Linked DNA regions of Homo sapiens: region 2 is linked to region 1. Evidence: fine-mapped expression QTL. A gene starts in region 1. The other region holds a variant in brackets. All regions are shown on one strand. Distances are from middle to middle.

The links. PIP is the estimated chance that this variant, and not a neighbour inherited with it, causes the effect.
Region 2: its variant is the best candidate, but not a certain one, in a credible set for the expression of TP73 in testis (GTEx, PIP 0.72).

The regions. Positions count from the first base shown.
Region 1 is chr1:3,650,135-3,655,499 of GRCh38, reverse strand. It overlaps TP73 (tumor protein p73), which reads right to left and starts at 2,984. Exons shown (of 14, transcript NM_005427.4): 1 at 2,859-2,984. RefSeq lists a silencer at 2,424-3,373 and an enhancer at 4,333-5,176.
Region 2 is chr1:3,734,632-3,739,996 of GRCh38, reverse strand. It overlaps TP73 (tumor protein p73), which reads right to left. Exons shown (of 14, transcript NM_005427.4): 14 at 3,796-5,365. It also overlaps the pseudogene GFOD3P. Among named protein-coding and RNA genes, the nearest start is that of CCDC27, 15 kb to the left of the region's middle. The variant A/G (reference allele first, on the strand shown) is at 3,135.

The DNA.
Region 1 (5,365 bases):
GATATCTTAAAAGGTTGCCTTAGCCCTCCCCACACTGGAAAACAAAGGCAAGCCGCAAAATGGCAGCTCGTTACATGAAACACACACCAAAAGTATTTTTTGCGTGTTTTTTTGAGACAGAGTCTCGCTCTGTTGCCCGGGCTGGAGTGCAGTGGGGTGATCTCGGCTCACTGCAACCTCTGCCTCCCAAGTTCAAGCGATTCTCCTGCCTCAGCCTCCTGAGTAGCTGAGACTACAGGCACCAGACACCACCCCCGGCTAATTTTTGTATTTTTGGTGGGGACAAGATTTCACCATTTTGCCCAGGCTGGTCTTGAACTCCTGATCTCAAGTGATCCACCCACCTCGGCCTCCCAAAGGGCTGAGATTACAGGCGTGGGCCACGGCGCCTGGCCTTAAAGGATGTTTTGAAGACTTTTTCTGACTTTTTGCAAACACAGGGTTCACCGTGTACGCGATGTCACTTTGGTGTGCTCGGAATCTCAGGGTTAATACCGCCGCTGGGCAAGGGCAGGGCCTCGTCCGGGTTCTGGAGTGGGTGTGCGGCTCCTCTCTCGGCCCTCAGCCTCTTCTCTTCTCTCCACTTTAGCCGTGCCTTTCACACGTGCTCAGTGTTATCAATCCATTCTTGGACCTGGGTGGGGCATGCCCTATAAATAAATACTAAACCAGGCATCCTTGCCCCAGTGCATACTTCTGACAGATGCCATCAGCTTCCACCCACGCCTTGGGCAGATGCCTGCCTCACTGCCATCCCTCCTGCCCTGGAGATACCTACCAGATACTAAGGAGCCGGGTCTCTCCCCAGGGCTCCTGGCTCTCCCAGCTCTGGAACAGCACCTGGGACCCGAAGCCATCATGTGTGAGGACACTGAGTGGGTGCCAGGCACTCTCCCAAGCCCTTCGGACGGCACCTCACTGACTGTTCTCCAAGCCTCTGAGGCAGGAACTACTATTACCCGACTCTGCAGATGGGTAACCTGAGGCTCCAAGTGGTTAAGTGACTTGCTGGAGTAAATGGGGAAGAGGAGATTTGAACCCCAGCATTCTGACTTCCATACTACCCCATTAACCACTGTGCCAGACCAGCTTCTCCATGCGACTGGCCTTCGGGATTTGGAGACAGCTACTGTTCGCTGTAGCTTTCACGAGAAGGACTGCAAGGCAGGGCTCACATCCCGAGCCATTCTCTGGTGGCCGCCGCGCATAGACAAGCCCCGCTCAGGTCCGCCTTCCGTTCACCCCAGGCTACCTCTGATTGACAATAGGCAGCTGCCACACTGCAGCCTCTGACACCAACTTTTATCTTATTTCATCTTATTTTTTGAGACAGAGTCTTGCTCTGTTGCCCAGGCTGGAGTGCAGTGGCATGATATCAGCTCGCTGCAACCTCTCCATCCCAGGTTCAAGCAATTCTTGTGCCTCAGCCTCCCGAGTAGCTGGGAGTACAGGTGCCTGCCACCATGCCCAGCTAATTTTTGTATTTCAAGTAGAGACTGGGTTTCACCATGATGGCCAGGCTGGTCTCGAACTCCTGACCTCAGGTGATCCACCCACCTTGGCCTCCCAAAGGCTGTGAGGGATGACAGGCGTGAGCTACCGTGCCCAGCCAACTTTTTATCTTATTTTAAAAACTACATACGTAATGCATACATTCATATATGGCAACATTTCAAACACCGTGTCCTGTTCTTAATGAAATGCTTTTTAATCTTTCCCCGAATAAATCCAAAGAGGGGTGGCTCAGCGCTCAGTAAGTGCCAGAGGCCACGCGCTTTGTTTACTCCTCCCCCAGAGCTAAGGCTGAACAAATAAACAGCAATGACAGCAACAAAAAACAAAACAACAAAAACCAAAGCATTGTGTTAATGAGCCTGAGCCATTTCCAAATGTCCAGACAGTGAATAAACAGATGGCAGCATCTTTGGAAGCAAATGACCTCTGGTCAGAAGTTTGGGGTGCATTGCTTTTCCCTGCACCCTTGCTGGTTGAAGATCGTCTATCTGTCCCCTGTTTATGTAGCAGACGTGTGCATACTACATGGGCTTATCTCCTAGCGTCCAGGCCAAAATACAAGCTGAGCAAAGGTAATCATCGCTCCCCAAGTCCAAGCCCCGGGAAAGGCAGGGGCTGCAGGAGGAGGCGGCCCAGGAGCTAAGGGGGCGTGAGGTGTCTCCCTCCAGGCCGGCCCGGGCCATTTCTTCACGGGCTTTCTCTACCTGGGACCGCTCCGGAGACAGGCCAGGAGCCCTCGACAGACAAACTCAGAGCCACAGGGAGCTGTCCCTCGGGAAACCATCGAAACCGCTTAGTAACCAACTCCATGGGTCAAGGCCCCCGCCCAGATCCTTCTCCCTGTCCAGAGGGGGGCCTGGCCCTGGCTCCTCAGGGAAGCTGAGGCCTCGGGATTGGCACAGCCCTGCAGGTCGGAGGGAGCGCGCGGGCGGGGAGGAGCTTGCTGGCGATTTCCACCTGCACCCGCGCCCCGCACCCCGGCCTCTTCCCGGGGTTACCCTCCCAACGGCCCTCGGAGCCCGGGGTGGAGAGGGGACAGCAGGAGGAGGGCCCTCCCGGAACCCCTGCGGGGCTGTCTTTGGCGCCAAAGGCGGCCGGCGCTGAGGGCAGGACCCGCGTCTCCTCGCAGGCTAGACTCTGGCCGCTCCAGCCTCTCGCGAGCGCCAAGTCCCAGGGGCCGATCCAACTCCGAGGGAGCCCCTGTGTCGCCTTGTCCCAGCTCGTCCCCGATCGCTCTCCCCTCACCTCCCAGCTTCGGAGCTGCGAGCCCAGGTGCCTGCCCAGCGCTGCGCTCCAGCCCCCGCCCGCGGAGCCGAACCGCCCCCCGGCCCTGGGCCTCCTACCTGCAGCCGTCGCAGCCCCGGGCATCGGCGTCCGTCCCGGCTGGCCTGGCGCGGGCCCCGGTTTCGCTGCGTCCCCTTCGCGGGCGCGCGAGCCTCCGGGCGGGTGCGCGGGCGGGGAGGCAGGGCGGGCTGCCCGGCCCCTAGGCGGGTTATATGGGCGCGGGGAGGGGAGGCGCCGCGGGGAGTAGGCGGCCGCGGGCGTTAGCGCCTTTTTAGCCCGGCGCGCGGGAAGGCAGCGCGGGCCACCGAGTCGCGGCGGGGCCAAGGTCTCCTCCCGGCGCTCCGCCTCTCCAGCTGGCCGCGTCCAAGTCGGGGTCCCGGGCGCGCTCTGCCCCGCCTCCTTCCCGCCGCCTTTTGGCGCGCGTCGCTCCTGCAGAGCCCGGCGAGGCCGCCCACGCAGGGCCGAAGCAGGTCCGGCGCCAGGGCCCCTCCCGCGGGCCAGACCCGACCGCGATCTTCGGCAGAGCTGGGGACGCCGGTGCCGACTCTGTGCCCGACGCCTGCGTTTCCCCCGGACTCCCTGCTGTCCCCCAGACGGCCCATCTTTCCTGACACCCGGGTCTCTCCTGGCCGCCGCCACTAGCGCTGGGCTCCTCGGCGCGCGGGGCGCTTGGAATCCAAGGGGCAGGGGATGTGGCCGGCGGGGAACAGGGGTGAGGGGCGGGGAACAGGGGTGAGGGGCGCCGCCCCAGGCCCAGGAGGAGGGGAACGGCTGCTTTCCGCCAAGCAGGGCTTGCCACCCACTTCTCCTGTGGAGCCACGGTCCCGCCCGGCAGAGGATCCCGCGGAGAGCCTCTGGGGGCTGCTCTCCCAACCCCAGCCGGAGTTTGGGCCCCACGTCCTTCCAGGGGTCACCCAGGACGCGAACACTCCCGGGCGGCGGCCAGCACCCTGCTCCCTCCCCCGGCCGCCGCCTGTGGGCTCGGGCTCTGGATCCCGTTCGGTGTTTGGAAGGAGCTCGCGGGCGTCGGTGCGCTTGGAGTTGTTCTCTGCGCGCACCAGACCTGCGCTAGGTCAGGCCGAAGCTCTCTACCGGCCAGCGACACCCGCCGCCCCGCCCGCCTGCTCCTCCTAGGCCATCGGGGCTTCCAGGGCCCTCGACCACGTACACCAGGCCCTGGCTAGGGGACCCGACATGCTGGGCGAGTTCCGAGCGGCTCTCAGTGGCGGCGCTGCTTATGGTCTGATGCTTATGGGGCCCGTGATCTGGCTCCGAACCGATGTCCTCTGCCCATGGTGACCCCCACGTCTTGGAAAGTCGCGTCAGTGAAGCCCGTGGCTTCGCGAGCGAGCCGGGCTGGCGCAGACTGGGTTCTCTGGCCGCAGCGGGTCCGCGCCTGACGGGGAGGGTCCGGCTGACTCGCACATCTTCATGGCTCACCCACTGTTTGCTGGGCGCACGGGGTGGGGACCCAAAGACGAATCCCATGCAGAGGTTTGGGTCTAGTTTTGGCAACAGAAAAGGCCGGCACCGCCGGAGTAGGACGCGCGCGCACCACCATCCATTCGGCCGGGGAGGTTGGGGCGTCCGCGGGGAGCAGACCCGAGGCTGGGCGCCCGGAGGTACGAGCAGGACCCTGGCCGGCTCTCAGCTCCCAGAACCCAGGGCCAGGCGGGGATGTCAGGGTCTGCGCGATCTGGGGGGCCCTAGAGGCGCCGGCGGGGCCTGGCGCGGACTACTAGCGGCCTGCGGGAGCCAGGGGTGGAGGGGGCCGCTGTCTAGGGAAGAGGACCGGGGTCCGGAGTGGGGGTGAGAACGAGGCACGCCCCTGAGCCTGCGAAACCTGCGGACCGAGCGCCCGCGCAGGAGCTCGCTCCCTCTGGGCCCCCAGGTCCCAGACCCGCACGATTCTTCGCCCGGTGCCAGCCCAGATGCGCGCGGGTGATGAACGGGCGGTGGCCGCGATCCACGCGCTCGCTCTGCCCAGTCAGCGGCAAATTCGTTCTCTCCTTGATCTCAGTGGCACTGGAGCGTGAGGCAAGGGCCAGGCGGCAGGTAGAGGGGTCGGACTCAGCAAAAGCAAACAAAACCCCAAGCAAACGAAATAAATACTTATACATTACATACACGATATAATATATGTGCGACAGACACCGTATTACTTATTAAAGATATATTTGTAGGTAAACATATATTTACATGTAAACATACATTTACATATAAATATAAATATATATATATGCATGTGTACACACACGCAGACACACAGGTCGCTCAATTAAATTTGAATTTCAGACTAGCGAGTAATTTTTCCGTATTAGCATGTCCCGTGCAATATTTGGGAACATACTTATAACTAGATTTGTTGTGAATCTGAAATTCAAATTTTACTGTGCTTTCTACATTTTTATCAGCAGCCCTAGCTGGAGGTGCTCAAAGGCCTCCCGGCCTTTGAGGTAAGGTTCTCGGGTCGGAAATCCCTGGTCGGAAGAAACGTGGGCGTTTCCTTTAAAGCCCTGCGGCACAAGAACTACAAGCCCCACAATGCCGCGCGGAAGCCGGCGGC
Region 2 (5,365 bases), 84 kb before region 1:
CTACAGGTTAGATAGAGGTCGTCAGCCGGGTTGATTGTGCGGGTTAGATAGAGATCATCAGCCGGGTTGATTGTGCGGGTTAGATAGAGGTCATCAGCTGGGTTGATTGTGTGGGTTAGATAGAGATCATCAGCTGGGTTGATTGTGTGGGTTAGATAGAGGTCGTCAGCTGGGTTGATTGTGCGGGTTAGATAGAGGTCATCAGCCGGGTTGATTCTACAGGTTAGATAGAGGTCATCAGCTGGGTTGATTGTGCGGGTTAGAGATCATCAGCCGGGTTGATTGTGCGGGTTAGATAGAGGTCATCAGCCGGGTTGATTGTGCGGGTTAGATAGAGATCATCAGCTGGGTTGATTCTGCAGGTTAGATAGAGGTCATCAGCTGGGTTGACTATGTGGGTTAGATAGAGGTCGTCAGCCGGGTTGATTGTGTGGGTTAGACAGAGGTCATCAGCTGGGTTGATTCTGCGGGTTAGATAGAGGTCATCAGCTGGGTTGATTGTGTGGGTTAGATAGAGATCATCAGCTGGGTTGATTGTGTGGGTTAGATAGAGGTCATCAGCTGGGTTGATTGTGTGGGTTAGATAGAGGTCATCAGCTGGGTTGATTGTGTGGGTTAGATAGAGGTCATCAGCTGGGTTGATTGTGTGGGTTAGATAGAGGTCATCAGCTGGGTTGATTGTATGGGTTAGATAGAGGTCATCAGCTGGGTTGATTGTACGGGTTAGATAGAGGTCGTCAGCCGGGTTGATTCCGCAGGTTAGATAGAGGTCGTTAGCTGGGTGTGTGGGTCCCAAGGCGTGCTGCAGATGGAGAATCAGAATTCCTTGGGCATCACCGGGCGGGGCATGTCCCTGTCCCTTCGCTCCCAGACCCAGGCTAGCCGCTACCAGGACTCCTATCGAGAGCTCTTCAGACACTTTGTCAGAACCCTTAAAGGTGGGTGACGTTTTCAGGAGGAACCTGGGATGTCCTGATGCTCAATGGGTAGATGCCTTCCAGGCTGCAGTCAGTGCAGATGATATGCCAATTTCAGGTGGAAAATTGCATTCCAGATACCGGGTTCAGATTTGAAATTGTCCATCTCAGTGATCATTTACGTTGCGTGTACTTGAGGGAGATTCTGAGAGATGCTCCTTTGGGGTTCTGTGCGTGTACCATGTTGCCTGACACGTCCTGAGAAATCTTCTTAAACTCTGAGTTTATAAAATAACTACTTCTGAACTCCTGAGATCTAGTGGATACCATGTATCCTGGAAGATAGGACACTTTCTACCCTCTGTCAGTCCTGGGGGTGACTGGGAACCAGAGAGGTTGAGCAGAATTCCTGGACCTGGGTGGGGCTTGTCCAAGAGGGGCAGGTGGGCCTCTCTAGGATCAGTGTCCCACCCAGAGGCCAGTGGCCCCTTCACATGCCCCAACAAGAGGAAGACTGTCTGGCTCCGCAGTGTTGGGTTTTGTCCTGAATCTGTGCAAATGTGCAGGGAAATAACCTCCTGAAATCACCAAAGAGCAGTTCCTCAGGGCCTTCCGGGTGACCGTGGCCGTGGAGCAGTCGTGGTGAAACCGGTCAGCTGTGGACCTGCCCTGCGAATCGGCAGAGGCCTCCGTGGTGAAGACAGAAGCTCCGTGAACCAACTCGAGGCTGGAGCCAAGATCCTGCCTGATATCCAGTTGCCTGTTTCACTTGTTACTGTTACTGGGAGAGGGAGACAAAACCTCATGGCAATCTTGTCCTCACTGGAGACTCAGAAGGGGAAGCATTGGGAAACCATGTATGTTTCATTTCTGGTTTAACCAGGCTTTTCAGGATGGGACTTCAGACCAAGGACACAAGTTGGGCTTGCTTAGGTGTTTTGTGTTGTGCGCAGGCCTCAGAGATGCTCTTCCGGTCAGAGTTCCCTTGGCAGGGCCTTGGAGGCCTCTGGTTGGCTCTCTCAGGAAGAGGGCAGGTCAGGGATTGGGCGGTGTAAATTGACTCAGAAACCTGCGGTTTCAGCTTTTCTGTGGCAAACAGGGCCGAGGGCTGGTGAAGCTGTTAAGGCTAAATGTCGCATGCATGAGGCGGGCTGCAGGCCTCCTTAGGCCTTTTTTGGGGTAATTACACCAGTATTTAAAAACATTTTTTTTTGTTTGTTTTGAGATGGAGTCTTGCCCTGTCACCCAGGCTGGAGTGCAATGGTGCGATCTCGGCTCACTGCAACCTCCGTCTCCCAGGTTCAAGCGATTCTTCTGCCTCAGCCTTCTGAGTAGCTGGGATTACACGCGTGTGCCACCACGCTCGGCTAATTTTTGTATTTTTAGTAGAGATGGGATTTCACCATGTTGGCCAGGCTGGTCTCGAACTACTGACCTCGTGATCCACCTGCCATGGCCTCCCAAAGTGCTGGGATTACAGGCGTGAGCCACCATGCTCGGCCTAAAAAACAATTTTCTTGAAGAATCCGATTTTGTGCATAGTAATGACACAGCACCATTCCTGAGAAATAGGAAATATATGTGTGTGGTATGAAAAGCCCATATTCTGTTCTTGTCACCTGAATCTAGGCTTCCTCTTTGGATGTGAACGCGGGAATGAACAGTGGCTGTTTTCCACCCAAAGGGGCGTGGAGACCTTTTGGAAACGGGCTTTCTCCTTTCCATTTTGCAGCCGGGGGCGGGTGGAAACCTTCCTTCGAAGGGTAGTGCCTTGGGGAGCAGCAGACCTGCTCTGAGTCCAGCTTAGCTTTCCAAAATTCTGTGTGGAACTTACTGGAGATGTTTTTATATATTTGAAAATAATGGCCTGTATTTCTCACGCTATACTTAAAAAAAATAACTAACCTTTTAAACAAAGATATTCAAACTCACCCTTGTGCTGAAAGCACTCACATTTCTGTGTTCATTCCTGAAAGGGCGTTTTAGAGTCCCCGTTTCTACGTTCTATGTGGCACCCTCTTGCCGAGGGAACATCCAGAATCCCTCCACTTCCTGTCTAGTTTGAGGCCTCAACACCTTCATGATCCAGAGTCCTGCGGCTATGAGGGGGTGGGCCCACCACCGCCCAGCCCTCCTTGGTGGACGTGGGGACAGGTAGGAGCCTAGGGAAAGGGGTGGGCGGGCTCTGGTGTGACGGCGTGAGCGCTAGCCAGGAAG[A/G]TGGGGCCAGGGCTTGGCATGGCACCTCACCTGTGGGGGAACTCGGCGGAGCTTCCTGGCGGCATCTCCCCCTCTTGCCTTGGTCCTTTCTATCTTTGTTTTAGGCCAATTTCTAAAAAGACTGAGGCCTCCTTCAAGGTTGAACAGATTTCTAGAGCCTTGTTTTTGCTGTGACAAGTCCCTAGTCCCTGTTCACAACTCTGAAACCAAGAAACCTGAGAACCAAGAGAACTGAAATGAAGCCCGTTGGTCTCAGCCTGGCTTGAGCCAACATGAGGCTCTCTGCTGCCTTTTGTTTTCTTAGGTTTTGCTGAGAAACGGGAGTGCGTTCTGTGTCGGTGTTTGTGACGCCCTGAGACCCTGCTTGGCCTAGCTAAAGTCCAGAAGGCCTGGGCCCCACAGGGCTTGGATGAGGGCTCATGGGCCTGTACTTCAGGAGGCCTGAGAGGCCCGGTCAGTCCCATGAGGCTACTCGGCTTGGCCCGCAGGTCCTCCGAGGCACAGGGCAGAGGGACACCCCAGGGACCCATCAGACTCACGACACAGAGAAACTCAAGTGGGGTGCCAGGGCCGGCCACAGAGGCCACGGGCTTCCTGCCTGTGAGGAGCCGCCCTGTTTGTCTGAGCCCTTTGGAGATTTAGGTTGAGTCATGAGAACCGGTCATTGGAACATACACTTTATTATGTTACAAAAACAAAAATCCCCACTGAAACACAGCTAAAAAAATAACACATTTTCCCAAGATTACATTACCAAAAACAGTTGTTATGTCATTGGAGGGCGTCCATTAATACTGCTCGGAGAAGCACGATCTTACACGAAAAACACGGATGGGATTTCGTTTTCACCTTAAAGCATTAAAGTGCTTTAACTGGTAACAGAGGAGTGGATGTTTGTGCGTTGGAGACACTGACTGTTCTGAGTGACAAGTGGCTCTGTGCCAGGATACTGCGGGTCGGGCTCCTGGGTACAGCAAGGGCTTCCCAGCAGCCCAGGCCTGGTGGGAACGCTGGGGGAATGGGGGAGAGTCGCTGTTTCTGACCAGAGCGACTTGGACAGATGTGAGCTGACCTGCCTGGCGAGCTCCTTCTGCCTTGCCTCTCTGAGCAGACTCAGGACCACTGCCTGTCCCCCTTGGCCCCAGGAGTGCCAGCAGCCTCCCTCCAACCCCTGCACTGCTGGGAAAACCATCCGCCTTCAAGATTTATTTGTTGATTTGTTTAGTTTTATAAAAACATATCACTTAAAGGATTCTTGTTCCTGGGAATTTGCATTTTCTCCTGACCACGGCGAAGTCTCAACTCTGTCTACTTTCACAGCTGCTTCTCCAGTGCAAGGAGGCTGCATGGGCTCCCTAGACAGGTGCAGCTGGGGCCATCTGGCTGCTCCGTGTTCTGGCCGGCTTCCTTGGACATCTGGCTGGGGTTCCAGTGACAGCTGCCCCTGGGCCTCTCCCAGCCCCCCCAGCCCCCCCAGCCCTTCCCAGGAGCACACTACAGGGGCTCTTGGGACAGCCTCACTGGACTCAGGGTGGACAGGTAACGTACCTAAGAAACAAATCAACAAGCCCTCTGGAACTGAAGCACATCTGCGCTGGGCTGAGGAACCCCGGGTGTCAGGATGGGCCCCCGCGGCTCCTGAAGTGGAACATGGGGGAAGAGTGGGGGCTTCAGGAGGTGGCCTCGGGTAGCAGGTGCCCAGCCCCCAAGAGATGGGTGTGGTGCCTGGGGCATGGGTCTTAGCCTTTCTGGTCTCAGCTTCCTCATCTACAAAATGGCAATAAGATGGAGAGCTGAGGTGACATGCAGCTGGGGTGGCTGCGCCACCCTGGGAAAGCCCCGAGTCTGCTGCTGCTGCCGCTACTGACTGATGCCCTGGGCGTGGGCACCTTTCTAGGGAGATGGAACCCTAGAAGCTAAGCGGCCAGAGCTTCCTGCCCTTCAGCTGGAAGGAGCCGGAAGGAGCTGGAAGGAAGGGCCAGGCCCTCGCCCTGGCTGCAGCCAGATCCCCTGAGAGCCGACAGCCCCGTTCCTGCTGCCCCCACAAGCGTGCACCCAGGCGACTGTGCTGTCAGCGGCCCCCGGGGAGGTGGACGGTGGGAGAGGGATGCCTGCGTCTTCGTAGACCAGGTACCTGCGGCAACACCAGTCGCTGCTTTTAAATAAGGGGAGGCTGGTGACGGTGATGCCACTTAGCAAGATGGAGTCCTGATCTGGGGATGGGGGCTGTG